Homo sapiens: one gene and its partners. The protein of the gene in region 1 interacts with the protein of each later gene in a pairwise test. Each region holds a gene or a part of one and is shown in the gene's direction. Other genes may lie near its edges.

What was found. Proteins that work in one complex are often made in the same cells at the same time.
Region 2: the proteins of MTURN (region 1) and TNFRSF19 interact in binary tests that used the Homo sapiens proteins (3 or more experiments, as listed by UniProt).
Region 3: the proteins of MTURN (region 1) and SSX1 interact in binary tests that used the Homo sapiens proteins (3 or more experiments, as listed by UniProt).

Annotation. Positions count from the first base shown.
Region 1 is NC_000007.14:30,130,277-30,138,180, forward strand, and holds the start of MTURN (maturin), read left to right. Parts: upstream 1-4,709; 5' UTR 4,710-4,860; coding exon 4,861-5,022; intron 5,023-7,904. UniProt on the Homo sapiens protein: Promotes megakaryocyte differentiation by enhancing ERK and JNK signaling as well as up-regulating RUNX1 and FLI1 expression. Represses NF-kappa-B transcriptional activity by inhibiting phosphorylation of RELA at 'Ser-536'.
Region 2 is NC_000013.11:23,573,412-23,580,411, forward strand, and holds part of TNFRSF19 (tumor necrosis factor receptor superfamily member 19 isoform 2 precursor), read left to right. Parts: intron 1-5,948; exon of another isoform or gene 5,949-6,118; intron 6,119-7,000. UniProt on the Homo sapiens protein: Can mediate activation of JNK and NF-kappa-B. May promote caspase-independent cell death.
Region 3 is NC_000023.11:48,250,625-48,258,391, forward strand, and holds the start of SSX1 (protein SSX1), read left to right. Parts: upstream 1-4,767; 5' UTR 4,768-4,808; intron 4,809-5,426; exon of another isoform or gene 5,427-5,512; intron 5,513-6,597; 5' UTR 6,598-6,617; coding exon 6,618-6,686; intron 6,687-7,121; coding exon 7,122-7,236; intron 7,237-7,767. UniProt on the Homo sapiens protein: Could act as a modulator of transcription. Plays a role in spermatogenesis.

The DNA of each region.
Region 1 (7,904 bases):
AAGTCTGTGTTAGTCCCTTAGCACCACCGCTGAGATTTTGCTGAAAGGGACGTTTTGTGTGTTGGGCTTCACTGAAGGAAGCCCCTGAAAGTGTTCAGAAATAGGGAAAATGAGAAACTGTTCCAGCTGAAAATACGGGCAAGGGGGAATCATTGAAGAAGACAGAATATTGAAGTGTTCAAATGAATAAAGAAGCTAAAAACTAAATCATAAGTATTTCTGTTTCTTTGATATATATAAAAGGAAAATGTTTACCAGGTGAATGTGATCAGCTAGGCATGTTTTGAAGGCAATTGTAGCCAAAATGTAACCCCAACTCGCTCAAATTCTACATCCAAACCTTTCAGAGGAATGTCCAAAAAAGAAATAATTTTGTAAAAACTAAGTTTGGAAGATTCAGAAACAAAATTCAGAATGAATTTTGTAGGAAGGCTGAAGGAAATCCTTTTCCAGAGCTTTACTGGGCAGTTGGGGTAAATCACAATGACTCATTTATATAGATCTTCAACTTTTCGCTGATCTTCCAACTTGATTTTCTTTCAGACTCTAGTTGCAGTGACACATAAACTATGGCGCAGGCTTAACTCATGTCTGCCCTCTACTTATCCTCCCCGCCCCACTGCTGGGCTCACTGTTCTGGAGCACAGTGCAGGGAGAAGACAGCTCTCATCCCTCCTGTGTTGCTCTCCTGGGAGTTACTTCTCCAGATCCTATGGTCTTTTCACCTCTCCCATCACAACTGTGACAAATCAAACACCTCTCTCCTGACCACCGTCTCCTGGAACCTGGGGTCTACAGTCCCTCTTGATACAATGAGACGACCTTGCGTTCAGGTGAAGGGTGAATGTGGAACCAGCTACGCTTCCCTCTCTGCCTACCTCCTCCTACTGCATAACCACAAGGCTATGTGGATGGAGCAGATTTATCAAAAACTAGGGCTAATTTAACGGACTTACAATATAGGAGTGAATCAAAGGTCAAATTATATGTTAACATCAAACTTACACTAGAATAAAAGCCATGGAGAACTTCAAAACAGAGATGGGCAGAAGAGTCAGCATTAGCAGGACAGTCTAGGGTGGCCTTTGCATTCCATACTGAGCTCCTGATGTCCTAGCCAGTGGGGTTTGAATATGTCTCCTCTTCTTGCCAACACACATCTCCCAAAGGCAAATGGTGATTTTCAGAGACAGCAAAGTCCAGATTTCTATAAATGAACAGAAACGTTCCTTAAATACAATGAAGACTGTACAACTCTGCCTACTGGTGGGGATAAGTTTTTTTGTCTGTTTGTTTTGTTTTTTGAGATAGGGTTTCCCTCTGTCACCTAGGCTGGAGGGCAGTGGTGTGATCATGGCTCACTGCAGCCTCGACTTCGAGGGCTCAAGGGATTCTCCCACCTCAGCCTCCCAAGTAGCTGGGACTACAGGCACATGCCACCATGCCCAGCTAATTTTTGTATTTTTAGTAGAGACAGGTTTTCACCATGTTGCCCAGGCTGGTCTCAAACTCCTGGGCTCGGTGATCCACCCACCTTGGCCTCCCAAAGTGGTGGGATTACAGGTGTGAGCCACCACGCCTGGCTGGGGAGAAGTTTTAATTTTCCTTCTACTTCCAAACCATGGCCAAAGGCTATGGGAACACAAGAAAGGGGGTATGGGTAGCCCTGGTGTTTCCTCACCTACTGGCTGCACAAAACACCTGGCTAGAGTTCTGAAATGACCACTGCCCTGTGCATGAGGCCTAAATACACCCCTACAACCTGGGATGCCTCACAGGACTCTCCCCAAACAGGAGGGAGGCAGGGCAAAGGTTTATGATCTTCTTAGCTAAGCAACTGGTGGCTTTACCAGTTGTTCTAAGGAAACAAAATTTCAAGCAACTTCTGCAGATGAACTTTCCAGGATGAATTTCAGCTGCTTTATGTGCATACCCTTTCCACTAGTTAGTAAAAATGACCAAAACACGACTGTTGCAAGACTTTTCTCTCTAAATCTGTGGTTCTCAAGTAGGGGTAATTTTGCACTCAGGGGACATTTGGCAATGTCTGGAGAAATTTTTGCTTGTCACAGTGGAGAGAGGGGAGGGTAGAGGGAGATGCTACAGGCATCCAGTGGGTGGAGGCCAGGGAATGTGGCTAAAAATCCTGCAATGTGCAGGACAGCCTCCAACAACAAAGAATTTTTGGCTTCAAATATCAATAGTGCTGCTGCTGAGAAACCCTGCTCTAAAGACTTGGAAAAAAAAATGAGATTTAGGTTCATCTGTGACCAATATTACCAGTCATATCACTCCTGAATTTCACTTTAAAAATTCATTAGCTGATCTTCTTACACATCATCCCTAAGAAGTAGATTAAGAGTAATAATGGCATTTACTGAGTTCTTACTATGTGCTAGGTTCTGGGATAAGGACTTTATATACTTTATCTCACTGTTGTCCCTGTTTTCAGAAAAGAAAACTGAGCTCCGAGCAATGAAGGAAGTTGCAGATGCACATAAAACTTAAAATGGCAGAGGGAGGAATCAATGCAGACATGGAGTTCTGAAGCTTTTGCTGTTGCTCTCAGTGCATTTCTAAGGAAACCCAACGGTATCCATTTCATTGACCAATTGCTTTGTACCCAAAATTTTATTTTTCATAAGAGTTTTTCATTTTCTGACAAAAACTATTTGTTAAATAAACATAACTTCATAATTCTGATCACATCACTTGGAGCAAATTTGACTGATACATTTTAAAACACATGGATTAAAAAAAAAACTCCTTCTTTCCCGAAAAAGGAAAAAAGGAATGTATTTTTCATATTTTCATCTCCAATTTAAGGAATTCATTTTTGGAACACATATTATGCTTTAAATGGTGGTGCCAGGTAAAACTGCAAGGAAGCTTGTGCTATCTGGAGACACCCATACTTTTTTTTTTTAAGGACCATTTTGTAACTTTACAACAGCATATTGCATTTTTATATTCATGTGCCTGTCTCCTTCATTGTCCTGTGTATTAGTTTTCTACTGCTGCATGAAGAATTTAAACAGACCTAACAGCTTAAAACAACACCCATTTAATAGCCCACAGTTCTGAAAGTCGGAAGTCCCAGCACAGCCATGGCATCACTGGGTTCTCGCTCAGGTTCTGCGAAGGCTGCAATCATGGTAATAGTCAGGCTCAGTTCTTGTCTGGAAAAGACAACAAGTTTGAGAAAAAAATCTGCTTTTCAAGCTCATTCGGGTTGTTGGCAGAATTCAGTTCCTTGCAACATTGGCCTAGGCAAATAATTTATGACTAAAACCCCAAAGGAAGTGCAACAAAAACAAGAATAGACAAATGGGCCTTAATTAAACTAAAAAGCTTCTGCACAGTAAAAGAAACAATCAACAGAGTAAATAGACAACCTACAGAATGAGAGAAAATATTTGCAAACTACGCATCTGACAAAGGACTAATATCCAGAATCTACAAGGAACTCAAACAACTCAACAAGAAAAAAAAAAAACCCATTAAAAAGTGGGCAAAGGACATGAACAGATATTTCTCAAAAAAGACATACAAGTGGCCAACGAACATATGAAAAAATGCTCAACATCCACTAATTATCAGAGAAATGCACATTAAAACCACAATGAGATACAATCTCACACCAGTCAAAATGGCTATGATTAAAAAGTCAAAAAACAGCAGATGTTGGTGAGGGTGCAGAGAAAAGGAAACATATATACGTGTTGGTGGGAATGTAAATTCGTGCACAGTGCCTGGTTCAGAAGACACACTTTACAGAAAAAAGCTGGCTGAATGTTTATAACGTGTCTGTGTTTGTAGTGTTCAAGTCCTGAGGGCGAGGACCCTAGTGCATTTTCTGCAATCCAGTAATGCCTGTCCAGTATATGGCAGCCAGTGAGCACTCAACAGGTGCAATCGTTGGGCCACACACTCTTGTTTTAAAATGTGCTTTATCCTCTTGACCTTTTTAGGTTATGCAATGTGAATTCAAGCTGAATAATACTGAAGCCAGTCTTATGAGGCTCATTTCTAAGAAATATTCAGCTTTACGTAACGCAAATAAAAAATCACACACGCCCTTTGCAAGTGAACATTCATATTAGTGTCTGATAAATGCATTAAGAAGACACATTCCCTTAAATCAATCGGAGAACAGAACTTTGGTTTCTGCAAAAAGAAAAGCTCCCTTTTCCTTAGATTTTCTCAGCTCCTCCACTGCTAGCCCCAGACAAGGTCCAAGTTATCTGCAGTTCTATGGCCTCCCTTGCATTTAAATCGCATTTGGGCAAACGCTTCCTGGGCTTTCTAACTCCACAGAAACGCTAACCAGGTATTGGGCGCTCGCACCGCTTCCAGGTAACCCGCGGAGCTGCGGATTCCAGGCTCGCGCTGTGACGTCACCGGGCTCGCAAGCCGCGGCGCGGTCTCAGGCTCCGGTGATTGGCTGGGGCCCATGACGTCACGGCCCGGGGCGGCACCGCGATGGCCAGGGCCCCGGGATGCTCCGGGTTTGTTTAAAAATAAAGGGGGGGCGGGAGCGCCCAGGAAAATCCGGGCGCCCGCGGGGGTGCCGGCCGCTCCTCCCGCCGCCCCGCGTCCCGGCCCGGCCGCGCCAACCCCCACGGCGGCCCGCAAGGGGGCGGGGGGAGGCGGGGCGGAGGAGGAGCCGCGGGCGCGGCGCCGCGCTGTCCCCGGCCGCCGCCCGCCCCACTCCGCACCGCATGTAAACAGTCCCAGCCGGCCCAGCCCGGCCCCGGAGGAGCCCGCGCAGGCCGAGCCGAGCGCCGCGCTGCCCGCCCGGGAGGAGGGCGCCTAGGAGCGGGAGGGCGGGCGGCGGCGGGAGGCGGGCGCGGGGCCGCGATGGATTTCCAGCAGCTGGCCGACGTTGCGGAGAAATGGTGCTCCAACACGCCCTTCGAGCTCATCGCCACCGAGGAGACCGAACGCAGGATGGATTTCTACGCCGACCCCGGCGTCTCCTTCTATGTGCTGTGTCCGGACAACGGCTGCGGCGACAATTTTGTGAGTGCCTGGAGGAGGGACCGCCGGAGCCGGCGGGAGTGTGGACGCGGCGGTGCGTCCCTGCGCCCGAGCTCCCGCGCGGTGGGCGGCGGTGGGCGCAGAGTGGGGGGCCGTAACCCGCGCCCCGCGCCCCGCGTGCTCCGCCGGGGAAGCCCCGGGCCGGGCGGTGCGGGCTCCGCTGCCCGGGTGGGGCCCGGTGGGCGGCGGGCAAGGCGCCCGGAGGATCCGGGGAGCCGGGTCGGGGCGGGAGGTGTGGCGTCCCCCTAAAGGCCACTCCTCTCCCCGCTGCTGCGGGCGCCGTTTCGGGAACCCGACCTCGCGGCCCGTGCGCGGTGCCTGGCATGGAGCATCCCTGGGGTGTGGGTGTCACCCGCGTCGGACCAGCCGGGTCTGGGGCGCACGGACCCTCCGGCAGGAGCCCAGGTCCGGAGCTTCCCACATCCAGGCGTCCCGTCCGGGATAGGAATCCCGCTCCCCTCCGGTGCCCAGCCTCGGCTCCTCGCATTGCCCCTCCCGGGAGAACCCCACTCCCCGCCCTCGCGGGTTAGTCCTTGCACTGCCTGTTTGGACACAAAGCTCTGTCCATACTAGCGATGCCCGATCTCCTGGACCTTCTTTGCGGAATTACACCCCGGATCTTAATACGCACGCGCGCCTGCGCATACACCCCAACACACACACACACATGCTCACACCCTCACCCTCACACGCGCACACTCACGCGCACACGCGGCACGCCTCTCCCCCTGCCCCCGCGCTGCCCTCGCTGCCTCTCTGAGCTGCCCGAGAGGTGTGTGTGGCCCGGGCGGGTTCTCTCCAGCCGAGGCGGTGCCCTGGCCCTGCTGAAGCCCGTTGGCTTTTCCAGATGACGGGGAATCCCCTCAGCCCCGGCTCAGAGGGACCGGGAACTGGGACTGCGGTGTCCAAACCTTCCACTTTGAATCCTGCACCCACCTGGGATCCCGACTCTGGCAGTTGAGGAAGGGGATGCGGAGGGCAGGGGAGTCGGGGTGGGAGGGGTGGAGTAGGGCGAGCACGGTGCTCATGAAGTGTTTCCAAGGTCGGGGAATAAATAATGATCCCCAAATGTAAGATGGAGGCGGCCGTGGGCGCGGGTGACCGTGTGGTCGCGGGCCTTGTGGGCGGAGGTGGGGTGGTGCGGGGCGCGGCCTGGTGCACGCTCCTCAGGTGGGGGAGACAAAGCTGGGCCGTGGTCCTGCCGCCGAGCGCCCTGACCACCTACGGGAAGTTCGCGAAGGAGTTAGGGAGACTGCAAGACCGCCTTTCTTGGTCCTGGAGAGGTGAAGGCTTATGTATGCCTGGCCGATAAAGCATTCCCTCCGCCCACACGCACCCCCTGAGGAGGGCAGGGATCCACCTGGGCATTCCACAAGTGGCACTCCAGAAGAGGGATGGCCTTGTGTGACAGCCAGATTTGAGTTCTGGCTCTGTGACTGTGCTCAAATACCCACCCTGAGCTCAGTTTCCACATCCAAAAAAATAGGTATAATAATGCCAGCACCCAGGCGTTCATATAGGTAACGCACCGAATAGTCCCTAACACACAGCAAGAGCCCCACAAATTTGGGGTTAGAGACCTGGGGTTTCCCAGAATTTAGAGCTTGTCTCATTTTTTAAAGAGCCTTGGTTTTCCCACCTGTAAAATGGGGCTAATCAGAATACCTCCAGAAGAGCCAACTGAACAATAATATTAATGCCTGTAAGCCCATCTTAACTGTAGGTAAAGTAAGTAAATAAGTGTTCTTTTTGGAAGGAGTGGGAGATCATTAAAAAGGGATTCACTCCATTGCAAAAGTGTGAGAAAGCCCCCAGGATACAGTGGAAAGGGCACCAGAATCCAGCTGACTGTAAAATGTTAGGGTTTGGCTAGGGTCCCTTCCAGCTCTGGGCTTCCTTCATCTGCCAGCGCCCTTTCTCCCTCCTGACCGTGTGAAACAGGGCAAGAATGGCTCATGGTTCTGGATTTCACTGGGGAGAAGCCCACACAGCCTTCCTGCTGGGACCGCCCAGGCCATACCCAAAGAAATGACTCCAAAGACAGTAAGTGGGCCAGGAAGACAAAAGGCTGTTCTCTTGCCATGAATATGTGTATCCAACCATCGTTCAGAAGTAAGAAGTATTATATTATTTGTATCAGGCCTTTCTCTTGAGGCCACCCAGATTTTAAATATTTTCCCATCTGCATGAGAAAAATGCTTGAAAGTGTCATGTAAACTGACAATTTAAATAGAATAGATAGAAAGATAGAGGATGGGGGTGGGCAGATGATTCCTTGGGTAGAATGGAACTTTCTCCAAGTTCTGGAGGCTCTAATGGACAAGATGCCAACCTCGGGAGTTTTCCTAGCCGGACCTCTTGAATCTGTCCCAGGCCAGGTTTGTCAAGCTACTGTTTGCCTCTAATAAGTGTCCTGCCTTAGTTCTTTTCTTTTTCCCTGGAAAATGTATTAAGCATTAGACAAAAGTGTGAGATCAATGGAATTTCTATTAGTTGAAGGACTTAGCAATAAGAATGTCTACATGAGCATTTCTCAATTTACAAAAGTATTTCCACATCATTCATTCATTCATTCAACAAACATTTATTGAGGGTTTACTTTGTGCCAGGCCAGTGCTATCTAGAATACAAATAGGGTCTCTGCCTTCATGTTCCTGGGGCAATTTTTACTTGTCTAGGAAGCAGTGTGGTGTGGTGGTTAAGCACACAGGCTGTAGATCAGACTACTTGGGTTTGCACCTCAGCTCCCCGTATTTGTGTGCCTTGGGAAAGTTATTTAACCCCTCTATGCCATACTTTTTTTTTCTTTTTCTTTTTTTGAGACAGTCTTGCTCTGTCGCCCAGGCTGGAGTGTAGTGGCGTAA
Region 2 (7,000 bases), on another chromosome or scaffold:
GTAAAATAATTTTCACAAAAAGTTTAATGCATCAATGTGATGTGGAATTATATATGTATTTGTGTGTTTGCCTCTGTGTGTGTGTGTACATACGAGTTTGGCATTATATCAACACATATTTGTGTGTTTTGAAGGAATTGATATTTTCTTAGATGATGCCAGTGGCATCCAAAAACAGTTTAATAATTAAAGGTTAATTTTCCTCCAGGGAAATTCCCAGTGGGATTCTGTGAAACTTCAGTTGACAAACTCAATGTGCATTTCAAACATGATATGATATGTGTTTCATATCATGTTTGATTATGTTAAGACTCTTGAGCATGTTTTCATTATCTCTTTGCTTTTCTTCCTTGAAAAAATATATCTTGGGGCCAGGAGCGGTGGCTCACGCCTGTAATCCCAGCACTTTGGGAGGCCGAGGCAGACGGATCACGAGGTCAGGAGATCGAGACCATCCTGGCTAACATGGTGAAACCCCATCTCTACTAAAAATACAAAAAATTAGCCGGACAAGGTGGCAGGCGCCTGTAGTCCCAGCTACTTGGGAGGCTGAGGCAGAAAAATGGTGTGAACCCGGGAGGCAGAGCTTTCAGTGAGCCGAGATGGCGCCACTGCACTCCAGCCTGGGTGACAGAGTGAGACTCTGTCTCAAAAAAAAAAAAAAAAAAAATCTATCTATCTATATCTTGTGTGAAAAATTTTAATTTAGTTACTAATAAAATTTTATACAAATACAGGACTCTCATGGCCAAACAACTGCCCTCATAATAGGGCTTATCACCCTCTTTAGGATTCCTACATATACAAGATTATTACTAACATGACCTAATATTTATTAATTCACTCATTATCAATTAATTCAATATCAAGTACTTGTGCAAGGATAAATAACATGTGCAAGATTATAGGAATAATTCAGTGGCAGCATTGTGATCTACATTTTTTTTGTTCTGGGGCTAGGTGATTCATTCTTTTTAAGAATTACACAAAGCTGAACTTGACTGTCAGCAAACATTATAGCCAAAATTTTGGCCAAAAATATGGGCTCCAGTTTTTTTTTTTCCTTTTATATATTTTGTAAGAACTATTAGACATTTTTAATAGTATTTTCTGTCAGGATGGCCATAAAGGACCTCCCTAAGCCATGAAGGCATAATCTGTTCTCCCTCTGCTTCAGGAGTGAACTGAACTCAACCATCTGGCATTGGTTTAGTCGGATTCTCTTTCTGTGATGGCAAGGCCAGTCCAAGCCACCCTGGAAGAATGAGTGATTTTGTCCCCTTTAAAGGATGGTTCTTTAAAACGTTGTCCACCTGGGTGAGCTCTGTGATGGGAGGGCAGAGGGAGGCTCCCTGGTGGCTGTGTTGGCTGTGCTTTAATTTCTCCTCTACTGTCACTAGTCATTCAGCTTTGGCTCCAAAGTTGTTACCTCAAACCCACCCACTTGCCAAAATCAATACTCACTTCTTTAGATTAAGTAGGTAGTTTAAAACCCTCCTTTGTGACTTAAATTTTCTCTTTGATGAGAAGGGGAAGGAGAAGTCATGTGGGGGTTTCCAATGACTTCATAAAACCATTCCTTCCAACATAACCCACTGTCTTTGAGAGGAGTTCTGATAAAGATAGTTTTCTCCATCCTGTTAAATGCCCCCCATTCTTTGGTGGCTCTATAGCTTAGCACCATGGGCTGCTGCCCAGCCAGCCTGGCCTCAAGCCAGCCCTAGGTCGGGGAGTCCACCATGTTCATCAGGAAGGAGAGAAGGAGAGTCAATGGACTGTCTCTTCCCTCATCGAACTCATGAAAAGGGTCTAGCCAATGAGGTACTCAGGGCCAAACTCACAAAGATCAGTGCAAGTGCTGCAACTTGTAACAACTTTGCTCTGTAAGTGTCTTGAGCTCCACTTACAGGAGGGGGCTATAAAAATAGCCTCCTTGGGTTTTTCATATATATTGGTTTACGCACCCATGGTATGGTGAAGATTATGTTAAGATACAGAAAGCCCAGATTCTGATTCCAGCTTTGTTAATTAACTTGGTGTGCAGCATTCAGGAAGTCACTGGGCATTGGCCTCACGGTGCTCCCTCAGCCCCATGCTGATAGTCTATAATTGGCAGTAGTGGGTATCGGGAATTACTTAAATAGCTAGGTCTTGGGGGTTCCTCCTCCACTTATTTTCTTAACTGTATTTGGAAAACTTTATTACTCTTTGAGATTCTCACTCTCAATTACTAATTCATCCAACAAATTTTTAATGAGAACTTACTATGTGCCAGAAACTGTAAACCAAAGAGACAAAATTTCATATTCTCCTGTAGCTTGCATTCTATTCCACTTTTTTCCCAAGGAATAGTGATTTACACTAGAAATGACTAGAAGTTAGGCAATTTTTCATTAGCTTTGCTACCAGCGAGCTAATTTATCACTGAAACTATTCTTTCAGGGGTTTTTCAAGTTTTCCTTAGTTCAACTTTTGGGGAAAAATATTTTAAACAAATGCACTTTGTGTCAGCTCAGATATTGCTAAAACTATCTTCAGAAAACTAACTTTTAACATAAATCTTAAAAACAAACACCTCTATCAAGATTGTCATAGCAATTTTGCTTTTCCAGTAAAAATTTTAACCCATTAATGATATGCAGTGTTTTAAAGGAAGTAAAATGCTCCCAGTCCTAATTACAAGCATCCAGTTTCATTTTGCATGAGCCTAAGGATCACAGAATTCTTTTTTTTTTTTTTTGAGACCGAGTCTTGCTCTGTCCCCCAGGCTGGAGTGCAGTGGCGTGATTTTGGCTCACTGCAACCTCTGCCTCCCGGGTTCAAATAATTCTCCTGCCTCAGCCTCCCTAGTAGCTGGGATTACAGGCACCTGCCACCATGCCTGGCTAATTTTTGTATTTTTACAGAGACGAGGTTTCGCCATGTTAGCCAGGCTGGTCTCAAACTCCTGACCTCAGGTGATCCGCCTGCCTCGGCCTCCCAAAGTGCCTGGATTACAAGCGTGAGCCACTGCACCCGGCCCACAGAACTCTTTTTATACTACTATGGTGCTCAATTGTGTGCCTGAGTTTTTGTTCAGACACTGTCTCCAAATCATACAACACTCAAATGAGGGAAAGTGGGAACTATAGTGTTTGTTCCCTCAGCATCTGAGGGGGACTGCTTTCAGGACACCCTCTTGGATACCAAAATCTGCAAATGCTCAAGTCCCTTACAAAAAATGGTATAAATTTGCATATGCTCTGAATCATCTCTGTATTACTTATAATATCTAATACAATGTCAATGCTGTGTACATAGTTGTTATACCATATTGTTTAGGGAATAATGACAAAATAAAGTGTACATGTTCAGTACAGACACAACCATTCATTTTTTTTCAAATATTTTCAATCTGCAGTTGGTTGAAGCCATGATGTAAAATCCATGGATGTGGAGGGCCAACTGTGTTTAACTTAATGAGTCTCTTTAAAGAATTAGATGAATCTAACAGCTGGAGTCCAGAGGTTCAATGTCCTTTTTCTCACCGTCAATGATCATTTATTGATTGATGCTAGGCATTGTAAGAGGATATATTGCTACTAAGAATGGCTATTTAGTAAGTGCTAGGCATTGGCCTAAGCACTTTAAATACCTTATCTATTAATACTTACCAACCATCAATGAAGCAACTCATTTTACATATGGAGAACCAGAAACTTAGAGAGGTTAAGTAACTTTTCCAAAGTCATGCAACTACTGAATGACAGGTTGGCATTGGGACCAGATTGTCAGATGCCCAAGCCCATTCAGGCTAACAATAGGTTCTCTCTCTGTTGTAAGCTAACAGGCTAACCGGGAAGATCAGTCAAAACACGTAAAATGATTCAAGAACTAATGAACTGAGTAATGTGTTACTACTGTCTCTAAGGACAAAAGGAGGTCAGAGAGAAGAAGAACATTTGGTTGAAGTCAGAGAAGGTAGTTCCTGAGCTGGCAGATTCAATTCCACTCAGAAAGCTTTGGTTGAACATTTATTTGAATGATTGATACTGTCAGAGATACAAATCGGAACAAAATATGCCCCTTCTCTGAAAGTGTTTTTAACTCCTTGAAGAAGAAAGTTAGTACACAGAATCTTATGATACAGGACACAATGGGCAAGTGCTAAATTGCCACAAACCTTGGAGCAAGGAAATACATAGGCTCAGAATTGAGGGAAAACTCGTGAGAGCCGTGGCTTTTGAGCGAGGTGCTGAAACTGGAGTAAGACAAGTAGGTAAAGCTCAGAGGTAAGATGGGAGAGCACGAAGAGGAAGTAGAGAGCAAAGGAAGGGCCACGCGGCGCAGTTTATAAAGCCTGCTCCAGAGGCGAGGCAAGGCTGGAAATAGGTGTAGGGCTGCACCTGGACATCTCGGAATGCTAATCTAAGGAGCGCAGAATCCATTCTTTACAGTGAGGAACCTCCTGTGACTCTTCAGCCTGACAGTAGCAGTGATGAAAGGCGGGAAGCGGGGTTGATGACCGAGGCAGTGCTGTGGTGAGGGGTGGGGAGGGTCTGCATGGTGGTGAAGGAGGTGGTGGGCACCAAGACAAAGAGAGGACGATGGGGGACTGCGTGAGACCTTGCAAAGGAAGATGCAGTAACTCAGCTTAGAAGTGCTGAGTATCCATCGTGTGCTAGGCCCCGGGATATCAAGGAATTAGGAGATGCCCTCGGGAGATCCAGGTGTAGCTGGGGAAGGAAACAGATAAAGAAGTTCAGCGGGATGTGGGAATGAATATGGTAGTGATGTGCACTGAGGGCTGGAGTCTGATCGGGTAGCCGCTGGGAGATGGGACAGGGAAGCACACACTTGCCTTGAGGTTCAAATTAGATAACGTACATCATTTGGAAATCGTTTACCAATAAGTCGTTATTGGGATCTATATTCTGGATGTGTTAGATTTGAAATATACAACCTCTATCAAGGTGTGACATCGGGAATAATATTTTTAACATTGTTCACAAGTACCTAGTATAGTGCTACGCCGTTGGAAGCCTGGGATCACAAGCTGTGCTTTTGGGCAATTAAATACAACAACCTATTCACTCATTCATTCAACAAATACTGATGGAGGGGCTCCAGTGGGCCTTGGGGTATAGACAAGAAACAGGGACTTGGGTCCATCCACACAGTGCAGTTGAGTGGGAAGTCAAAACCAACACGTGAGAAACGGTGGATGCCTTGGTACCAAAGTCATGCACCGTATCTTGGGTGAACGAATAGAACAATACTGCTTGCACTTTTACAGCATTCTACTGGTGGAAAAGTATTTTACAGACGCGATTCTCTTAACCCTTTCAGCAAAACTGCCCAGTGAGTCCCCGGCCCTGGCCCCGCCTCGCACGCGCTGGTGCTACAGCTGTGGTGCAGACGCCCTTCCGCTGCGAGGGTGCGGCCGTCTCGGGGCGAGTGCTTCCCGGCCTGCAGGAGGCGAACTCGGGCTTCCCCGGGAGGCGTCCGTGGGAACGCGCACCTGCGAGTCCCTGCCGGCTGAGGAGCCGAGGTCTGCGACCTCTGCCGACCTGAGCTCAGGCGCAGCAGCGCAGACCTGGCCGCCGTATCCCCTCTGGCTGGGATGCGGGCCCACGCGGGAAAGGCTGAAAGGTGGGGAACACCCCGGCGGAAAGGAACCCTCCCTCTCTGCTCTGAAGGAAAGTTTCCCAACACAGCCATGTTCTTGGTGGTCTCCGGTCCCCCATCCCCAAGCCCCCAGTCAGCCTCACACTCATCCGCTTCAGTAGCCGCGGAGTGGGGGCCTCCAAAGAACCCAGCTGCAGAGCAAGTCCGGCTGACGCAGTGTGCGCTGGGGGCGGGGCTCTGGACGGGGGCGGAGCCACGGCGAGAGCCGCGGTGAGGGCGGGGCCCGGGTGGGCGGTGCCCTGAGCGGGGCTCCTAGTGGGCGGGGCTCTGGGGTGGCGGCCGTTGCCGGGCTACGGGAGAGCGCGGAGCCCTGCGCTGGGAGGTGCACGGTGTGCACGCTGGACTGGACCCCCATGCAACCCCGCGCCCTGCGCCTTAACCAGGACTGCTCCGCGCGCCCCTGAGCCTCGGGCTCCGGCCCGGACCTGCAGCCTCCCAGGTGGCTGGGAAGGTAGGTGCGTCGCTGTCCCCGGCGCGCGGCGTCCCGCGAGGTCTTCAGCCCTCGCCCTGGTGGATCCCCGCTGGGTGGGAGCCGGGAGTGGAGGCGGCCGCCCTAGGGAGGGAGGAGCGCAGGCGGGGGCTGCTCACGGGCGGAGTACTGCGCGGCGAAGGGAACCCCCGAAGGGGCTGACCGGGTCTCGGGGCCGTGACAGGCGGCGAGGCGGTGGGAGGGGAGCGTGTGAATTCACGCCGGGTCCCCGCGGGCGACGCGAGCGACGCGACCTGGACTCCTATCCGGGATATTGTAAATAGATCTGCTTGTGAGGCTCACGACTGGGAGCCTGTCACTCTGCCCAAGCCCGACCCGGCCCCGGCGCCCGCCCGCGTCCTGCGGAGGTCCCCTGAGCCAGCGCGCGGCTGCAGGGGTCTCGGGGCCGCATCCCGGACCAGCGCCAGCGGCGGGAGAGCGTTGTCTGTGAGCGGCCCAGGGTATATTCCTTCTGTGGGAAAGAGTTCCTTAGAGTTCAGCAGGAATTATTAGTATATTGATGAGTAGAGCCTGTGATAGATTTAGAGAGTGAGAAAGCCAGCTCTTACAATGCGTGTAATGCCATCTCATGGGACAGAAATTTGGCTAATATACTCCTGGAGATCAAGTTTGGCGGATCAAAATTCTGTGATCTGTTTTGATGGTAGTGCACTAGTCATCCAGTCTCCGTTCACTATTGTAAGAAACCCATGTCATTTGTTTGCATGTTAATAAAGGACTCAATATGCATACAAAATCATCACCATTGTTCAGTGTTTCTTTTAACTGAAACAGTTTAACCCAAGATATGTATGAAGACGTAGTTTTTACCCCATGACAGTTTCTTTGACTACAAAACCAAAC
Region 3 (7,767 bases), on another chromosome or scaffold:
AATAGTGAAACTGTCTTAACAGCAACAACAGCAAAAGGCCGGGCATGGTGGCTCACGCCTGTAATTCCAGCACCTTGGGAGGCTGAGGCAGGCGGCTCACCTGAGGTCAGGAGTTCGAGACCAGCCTGGCCAACATGGTGAAGCCCCGTCTCTACTAAAAAGACAAAAATTAGCCGGGCGTGGTGGTGGGCACCTGTAATCCCAGCTACTCAGGAGGCTGAAGCACAAGAATCACTTGAACCTGGGAGGTGGAGGTTGCAGTAAGCAACCTTGCTTACTACGGTGGCTGGATCCCACCACTGCACTCCAGCCTGGGCGACAGAGGAAGACTCCATCTCAGAAAACAAAAACAAAAACCAAAACCTAATAAATGCAGTTAGGAAACTATCTTAAAACACAAAATCCCCTTTTTTTAGACTGATTGTTTAAAAGATAAAGAAAAAACAGATCAACATGTTAAGAAAACCTAATTCAAAACGAGAGGAGTAGACTCGCCCTGCTTCATTGCACCCTTGACACTAATGGTCGATTTTTAGATAAACGGATGAACAATTTCTTTTCAATCACAACCAATCTGATCATATATAAGACTCCATTCCCAAGGCTCATCCTTCATAAACCCTCAGCAACTTGCCTAGAGATTCCATCATTTTTTATCCCCAGTCTTAGTCCCATAATTTTTCATTTTTATATTGGACTCCAATTCAAGTTCTAGTAAAATGTTAGAGGAAAAGGATAAACTGAGGAAAGGACTGTTAAACAAAAAGGATCCAGGGAAATTCTAAGCCTATCAAGATTGCAAAAGACACTAAAATTAGGAGAGGCACTGTCAGGAAGGTATCCTCTAGAGAGAAAGTCAAGAATGTGGCCATGTTTGCTAGTGCTGAAGAGATTAGGCACGTGACTCAAGGAGCTCTTCCACTATGCTCAGCCATAGCCAGTCTAGAAATGATATTATCTGGGAAGATACACATAGGACCTGCTGGTCTAAAGGTGTGAATCACTATGACATACATTCTGAGAGGAGGGCGATGGGAGAGGGGAGAGCTTCAAGCTACAGAGGATTATTCTGAGTCCTTGAAACCAAATGGAATTTGTCCTGCTAGATTTCAAAATGGTTGGAAGTGGCAACTCCTTCCTTCCATTTTCTCCCATTTGAAATAGAAATATCTGTAACTATTATCCTACATCTGTCTCGCCACTTTATTTTTGGAATAAATAACTTGCTTTCTAGTGTCACAAATTCACGGCAGGAGAATTTTGCCCCAGGATGTTTCATAACCAGAGTCTCATCCATATCTGTTTTAGATGAGGAGATTTGGTACTTTTGAGCTGATCTTATATGGATAAGATGTTGGACTTCAGCTAATGTTGCACGGTTTGAGACATTTGAGGATTTGGGGATGGGGTGCATGTATTTTGCATGTGGGAGAGATGTGAATACTTGGGGGCCAGAGGGCAGGCTGTGGTAGACTGAACAACGCCCCTCCAAAAGATAGCAACATAGTAACACCTGGAACCTGTGAGTGTTAGCTTACAACAAAAAAAGTAATTATGTTGGCCAGGTGTGGTGGCTCACGCCTATAATCCCAGCACTTTGGGAGGCCGAGGCGGGTGGGTCACGAGGTCAGGAGTTCAAGACCAGCCTGGCCAAGATGGTGAAACCCCGTCTCTGCTAAAAAAAATATAAAAATTAGCTGGGTATGGTGGCGGGCACCTGTAATCCCAGCTATGCAGGAGCCTGAGGCAAAGAATTGCTTGAACCCGGGAGGCAGAAGTTGCAGTGAGCCAAGATCATGCCACTGTACTCTCGCCTGGTCAACAGAGTGAGACTCCGTCTCGAAAAAAAAAAAGTAATTATGTTAAAGCTCTTGAGATGGGGAGATTCTCCTGGATTGTCTGGATTATCTGGGTGGGCCCTAAATGTAATAATGAGTGTCCTTATCAGATTAAGGCAGGGAGATCTGACACAGACAGAAGAGAAGAAGGCAGTAAGCCTGCCATGGTTTGAACGTCCCCACCAAAACTTGTGTTGAAATTTAATTGCCATTGTTAACAATATTAAGAGGTGGGGCTGTTAGGAAGTGATTAATGCCATTATCATAAGAGTGGATTAGTTATCACGAGATTGGGTTTGTTATAAAAGGGAGCTTAGTCACATTTTCTCTGTCTGTCTCCTGCACTTGCTTTTGCCTTTCATCCTTCCATCATGACACAACCCTCACCAGATGCCAGCGCCATGTTCTTGGACTCCTAGCCTCTAGAACTGTATACCAAATGAACTTCTATCCTTTATAAATTACCCAGTTTGTGGTATTCCATTATAGTAACAGAAAACAAACGAAGGCAATGACCATGGAGGTAGAGATTAGAGTGATGCAGCCATATATTAGTCCCTTCTCACACTGCTATAAAGAGCTGCCCGAGACTGGGTAATTTATAAAAGAAAGAGATTTAACTGACTCACAGTTCTGCATGGCTGGGGAGGCCTCAGGAAACAATCATGGCCAAAGGTGAAGAGGAAGCAAAGACTTTCTTCGCATGGTAGCAGGAGACAGAAATGCAAGCAGGGGAAATGCCAGACGCTTGTAAAACCATCAGACCTCATGAGAACTCACTGTCACAAAAACAGCATGGGGAAAACCACCCCCGTGGGGATTTGTAATCTGTGGGGATTACAATTCGAGATGAGATTTGGGTGGGGACACAGAGCCAATCCATATCAAGCCACAAGCCAAGAAATGCTGGCAATCACGGGAAGCTGGAAGAGGCAAGGAACAGGTTCTCTCCTAGAGCCTCTGGAGGACTACAGCCCTGCTGACAACTTGATTTCAACTCAGTGAAACTGATTTCAGATTTCTGGGCTCCAGAATTGTGAGAGAATAAATTGATGTTGTTTATGCCACAAAGTTTGCGGTAATTTGTTACAGCAGTCAGAGGGAATATGGGGTGATTGTAAGGAGTTATGTAAATTATGTTAAAGAACCTTTGCAGTTGTAAGATGCATTCATTCATTCAACAAGTAGTCGAGGCAATATAGAAGAGTAATTAAAAGCACCGACTTTGAGGCCGGGCGTGGGATGGTTCACTCCTGTAATCCCAGTGCTTTGGGAAGCCAAGGCAGGAGGATTGCTTGAGGCCAGCAGTTCCTTCCAGATCAGCAGGGACAACATAGCAAGACCCCATCTCTAAAAAAAAATTATTTTAATTAAAAATAAATAAATACATAAATAAAAGCACAGACTTTGGACTCAATTCTATCTTGGGGGTGAATCCCAGCTCTGTCACCCACTGACTATGTGACTTTGAGCAGACTGCTTAATTCTCTTGAGCCTCAGTCTCAACATCTGCATACTGGGGATGATAATAGTATTTAACTCCAGAGAAGGTTGTGAAAATTAATGGGAAGATGCACATAAAAGGCTTTGTGCTGGGCTCAAGGGCCATTGCTCTGTTCCTGCCCTAAGAGAGCTTGCTGTAATCCTGGGAGGATCTTAGAGAGATCAGGGCTGTAGGTGGAAAGCCCAGAGAGGAATGGGGACTTGTTGGAGGTACTAGGGATGGGGGTAGGGGAAACTTCTTAGACAAATTGACTTATGAGCTCCCTGATGAACACAGTGGGCCCTAATTACATACTCTTTTTAATACTATTATTATAAATATTATTAATATCAATGGGTAAAATATATTTCTGCTTCTTTGGTCTTTTAGAAAAAAACATATATGGAAGTGTAGAAGTGTTTTTTTTTGTTTAAATTTCTTTTTTAAAAATTTTTTATAGAGATGGGGGTCTCACTATGTATCCCAGATTGTTCTGGAACTCCTGGCCTCAAGTGATCCTTCCACCTCCTGCCTCAGCCTCTCAAAGTGTTGGGATTACAGGCATGAGCCACTGGGACTGGCTCATTGAAATTTTTCTTTCTTTCTCTTTCTCTCTCTCTCTCTTTTTAAAGACAAGATCTCGCTCTGTGGCCCAGGTAGGCAGGAGTAGCCAGATCATGGCTCACTGCAACCTCGTACTCCTGGGCTCAAGCTATCCTCCTACCTCAGCCTCCTGAGTAACGGACTACAGGCACACCACCCCACCTCGCTAATTTTATTTATTTTTTTTGTAGAGAAAAGAGACAGGGTATTGCTCTGTTGCCCAGGGTGGGGTGCAGTGGCATGATCATGGCTCACTGCAACCTCTGCCTCCCAGGTTCAAGTGATCCTCCAGCTGTGGCCTCCCTAAGTGCTGGGATTACAACCGTGAGCCGCCGCACCGGCCCAAATTTCTTACGTCACTACAGAGTTCCTAGGAAAAAATCCCATACCTGAAAAAGATAGAAACTGACAGGAAGGATTTGAGATGATGACCTGCTTCATATACACTCCTTATTAAAACTGGATAACAATGCACCACCGAGGAGGTGGGGAGGGATAGGAAAAATGAAAAGAGAAAATCAGCGCATGCGTACTCTGATTTGGGAAGACTCCAAAGAGAAAATCAGAGCATGCGTACTCTGAACTTGGAGTAGCCAATCCCAGGGGATGCTTTAGGCGGGAAAGTCAGAGTTTCTGCCTCCATTTTGAGAAGGTTCTGTCCCTAGAGCCTAGACTGATAGACCCCACATCAGCTTGGCTTGTCCCGCCTACTGTTCTGACTTCTGATTGGCCAGATGGAGTTCACTAACTGCCCTGATTGGTCCATCATCCTGGAGCAATGACATTGCAGAATATTTTCTCCTCCTCCAGCCACACTTTGTCACCAACTGCTGCCAACTCGCCACCACTGCTGCCGACCTCGCAACCACTGCTTTGTCTCTGAAGTAGGTTCTCTTTAAGGGACACCCTAGATGGGCTAATCGGGGCAGATAGAAAAGGAGGAAGCCTCTGTAGGGCCGTCAAGTGCTTGGGGTTCCGAAAATCTTGAGGACTGAAAGACAACTAATGCCTTTCAGGACGATCATCATGGAGGATCCTCCCGCCTCGGCCTTGGGTCTACAGGCCTGTATTATCCCACCCCTGTTTTTTTTTTTTTTTTTTTAGTAGAGACGGGGATTTGTTATGTTGACCAGGCTGGCCTCAACCGCCTGGGCTCAAGCAATCCTCCCGCCTTGGCCTCGGGACTACAGGCACGAACCACCCCACCCTCACTAATTTTTTTTATTTTTTATTTTTTTAGTACAGACGGTTTTGCTATGTTGGCCAGGCTGGCCTCTGCCGCCTGGGCTTAAGCAATCCTTCCGCCTCGGCCCTGGGACTACAGAAGTGCACCATCCTGCCCATGCTTTTTTTTTTTTTTTTTTTAGTAGAAACCAGGTTTCACTATGTTGGCCAGGCTGGCCTCAACCTCCTGGGCTCAAGCGATCCTCACACCTTGGCCTCAGGACTACAGATGTGTGCCATTCCGCCCCTGCTAGTTTTGTTGTTGTTGTTCTTTTTAGTAGAGACAGGGTTTCCTTATGTTGGCCGAACTGGGCTTGACCTCCTCGGCTCAAGTGATCCTCCCACCTCGGCCTCGGAACTACAGGCAAGAACCACCTCGCTGATGTTATTATTTTTGTTGTTATTATTAGTAGTAGAAATGGGGTTTTGCTATGTTGGCCAGGCTGGCCTCAACCTCCTGGGCTCAAGAGATCCTCTTGCCTCGGCCTCGGAACTACAGGCGAGCACCACCCCGCCCCCACTAATACTTTTTATTTTATTTTATTTTTTTTAGTAGAGGGTTTTTCTAGGTTGGCTAGGCTGGTATCAACCTCGTGGGCTCAAGCGATCCGCCCCCCCTTGGCCAAAGAGCTGAGATGTTATAGGCCTGTGCCACCGCCCCCAGCTAATTTTTTGTGTGGTTGTTTTTTTTTTTTTTTTTTTTTTTTTGTAGAGATGAGGGGTTTGCTATGTTTCCCAGGCTGGTCTCAACCTCCTGGGCTCAAGAGATCTGCACGCCTCGGCCTCCCAAAATGCTGGGATTACAGGCATGAGCCACTGCGCCTGGCCGATTGCTGCAAATTGAAACACCCCACATTTTCTCTAAGTGATGGCAGGCTCTTGTAATCTCAGAGATTCTAGCTCTCTTCCTTCTAATAATTTACAAATAACCCAGTAATAGCTTCTAAATCTGTTCATATTAGTGAAGGTCATTTCTCTTCAACAGAACAGAACCCCCCCATCCCTCTGCCTGATCAGATCCATCACCAGAAAGACCACGTTATGTCTGGGACTCACTTCCCTCCCTTTATTTATTGAGTGGGGGTGTCAGAACGCCCCCATTCAATAAAATTACACAGTCACGTCCCTGCCTCCCCAGCAAGGGTCTGTACATCTTTCAGGGTAAGCCTAGCCCCAGGGAAACTACTAACAACACTAGCCAACCCCCTCCCAAAGACTCAAGGCTGCTAGGAAACCTGTCATCCCCAAGCAATACTTCTCCCAGAGACTCCAGGCTCCCTGTTTTCATCTGACTTCTCTCCATGTCCTTACCCATGGACAGGTAAGCCCCGAATGGAGAAATGCAACCCCTAATTCCAGGTGACTGAGTGTGGCCGGGCTTCACTGATTTCTCCCTCCATAGGACCAAGGGTCCTGTAGCTAGAAAGTCTCAGGCTGTTTCTCTTGCAGGTGAGACTGCTCCTGGTGCCATGAACGGAGACGACACCTTTGCAAAGAGACCCAGGGATGATGCTAAAGCATCAGAGAAGAGAAGCAAGGTGACGTGACCTGGAGGGGGCAGAGCAGTGGTCCAGGGGACAGAGTAGGGTGACCAGGTTTCTGAGGAGGGGAGGACAGAGGTACTGGGGACAAGGAGCAGGGTCTCGGGGGAGATCTGGACCCTTGGGAGCCTCCCACCTGTGTTCTGTCATCACCTAGCATCCCTGGAGACAAGTCTCTGACCTTGCTCTACATTTGGTAACTCTCAGTCCATTCTGGAAGGTGGGAAGAGAGCCAGACAGCAGCATTAAAGCCCTAATGTGTGCCACGGGAGAAGCTAGGGTAGGTCCCCCATGGTCTCTCAGTTAGCCATGGCATCAACCAGGACGGATTATCATCCTCACTTCCCAGATCCAGCACACAGGAAGCGGCTCCAGCTGAATGGCAGACATACCTAGCTGAGTCACTGACAAATTTTATTTTATTTTTTTTAGGCCTTTGATGATATTGCCACATACTTCTCTAAGAAAGAGTGGAAAAAGATGAAATACTCGGAGAAAATCAGCTATGTGTATATGAAGAGAAACTATAAGGCCATGACTAAACTAGGTAACAGAAAGTTCTAGGAACAGACAAGTCTGGGGATACATGAGCATCCCTTTTCCTGCTTTGGCTACTTCTTAGGCTGCAGAAAGTACCCCACATTTTCCTTTTGTGCAGGGAAAAATCGCAAGGCAGCTTCTGGGGGTTCTGCTCTTCTGTATCCTGTCAGAGCTGAGGGCAGGGACTGGCCATAGTGGAGCTTGTACCTGGACCTTGCACTTTTCTCTCCCTTAGGCGTCTGTTCTGATCAGCCCAGCTGTCTCTGTGGCATTGCAGCACACCTCCCACCCTACCTTCCTCCTCTCAGCTTGTCTCTTTCTCTCTCTCTCCCTTTTTTTTTTTTTTTTTTTTTTTTGAGTCAGAGTCTCACTCTGTCACCTAGGCTAGAGTGTAGTAGTGCAATCATAGCTCAATGCAGCCTCGAACTCCTGGGCTCAAGCAATCCTTCTGCCCAGCCGATGGAGTAGCTGAGGATATGAGCACATGCCTCCATGCCCAACTAATTTTATTTTATAATTTGTAGATATGGGGGTCTCT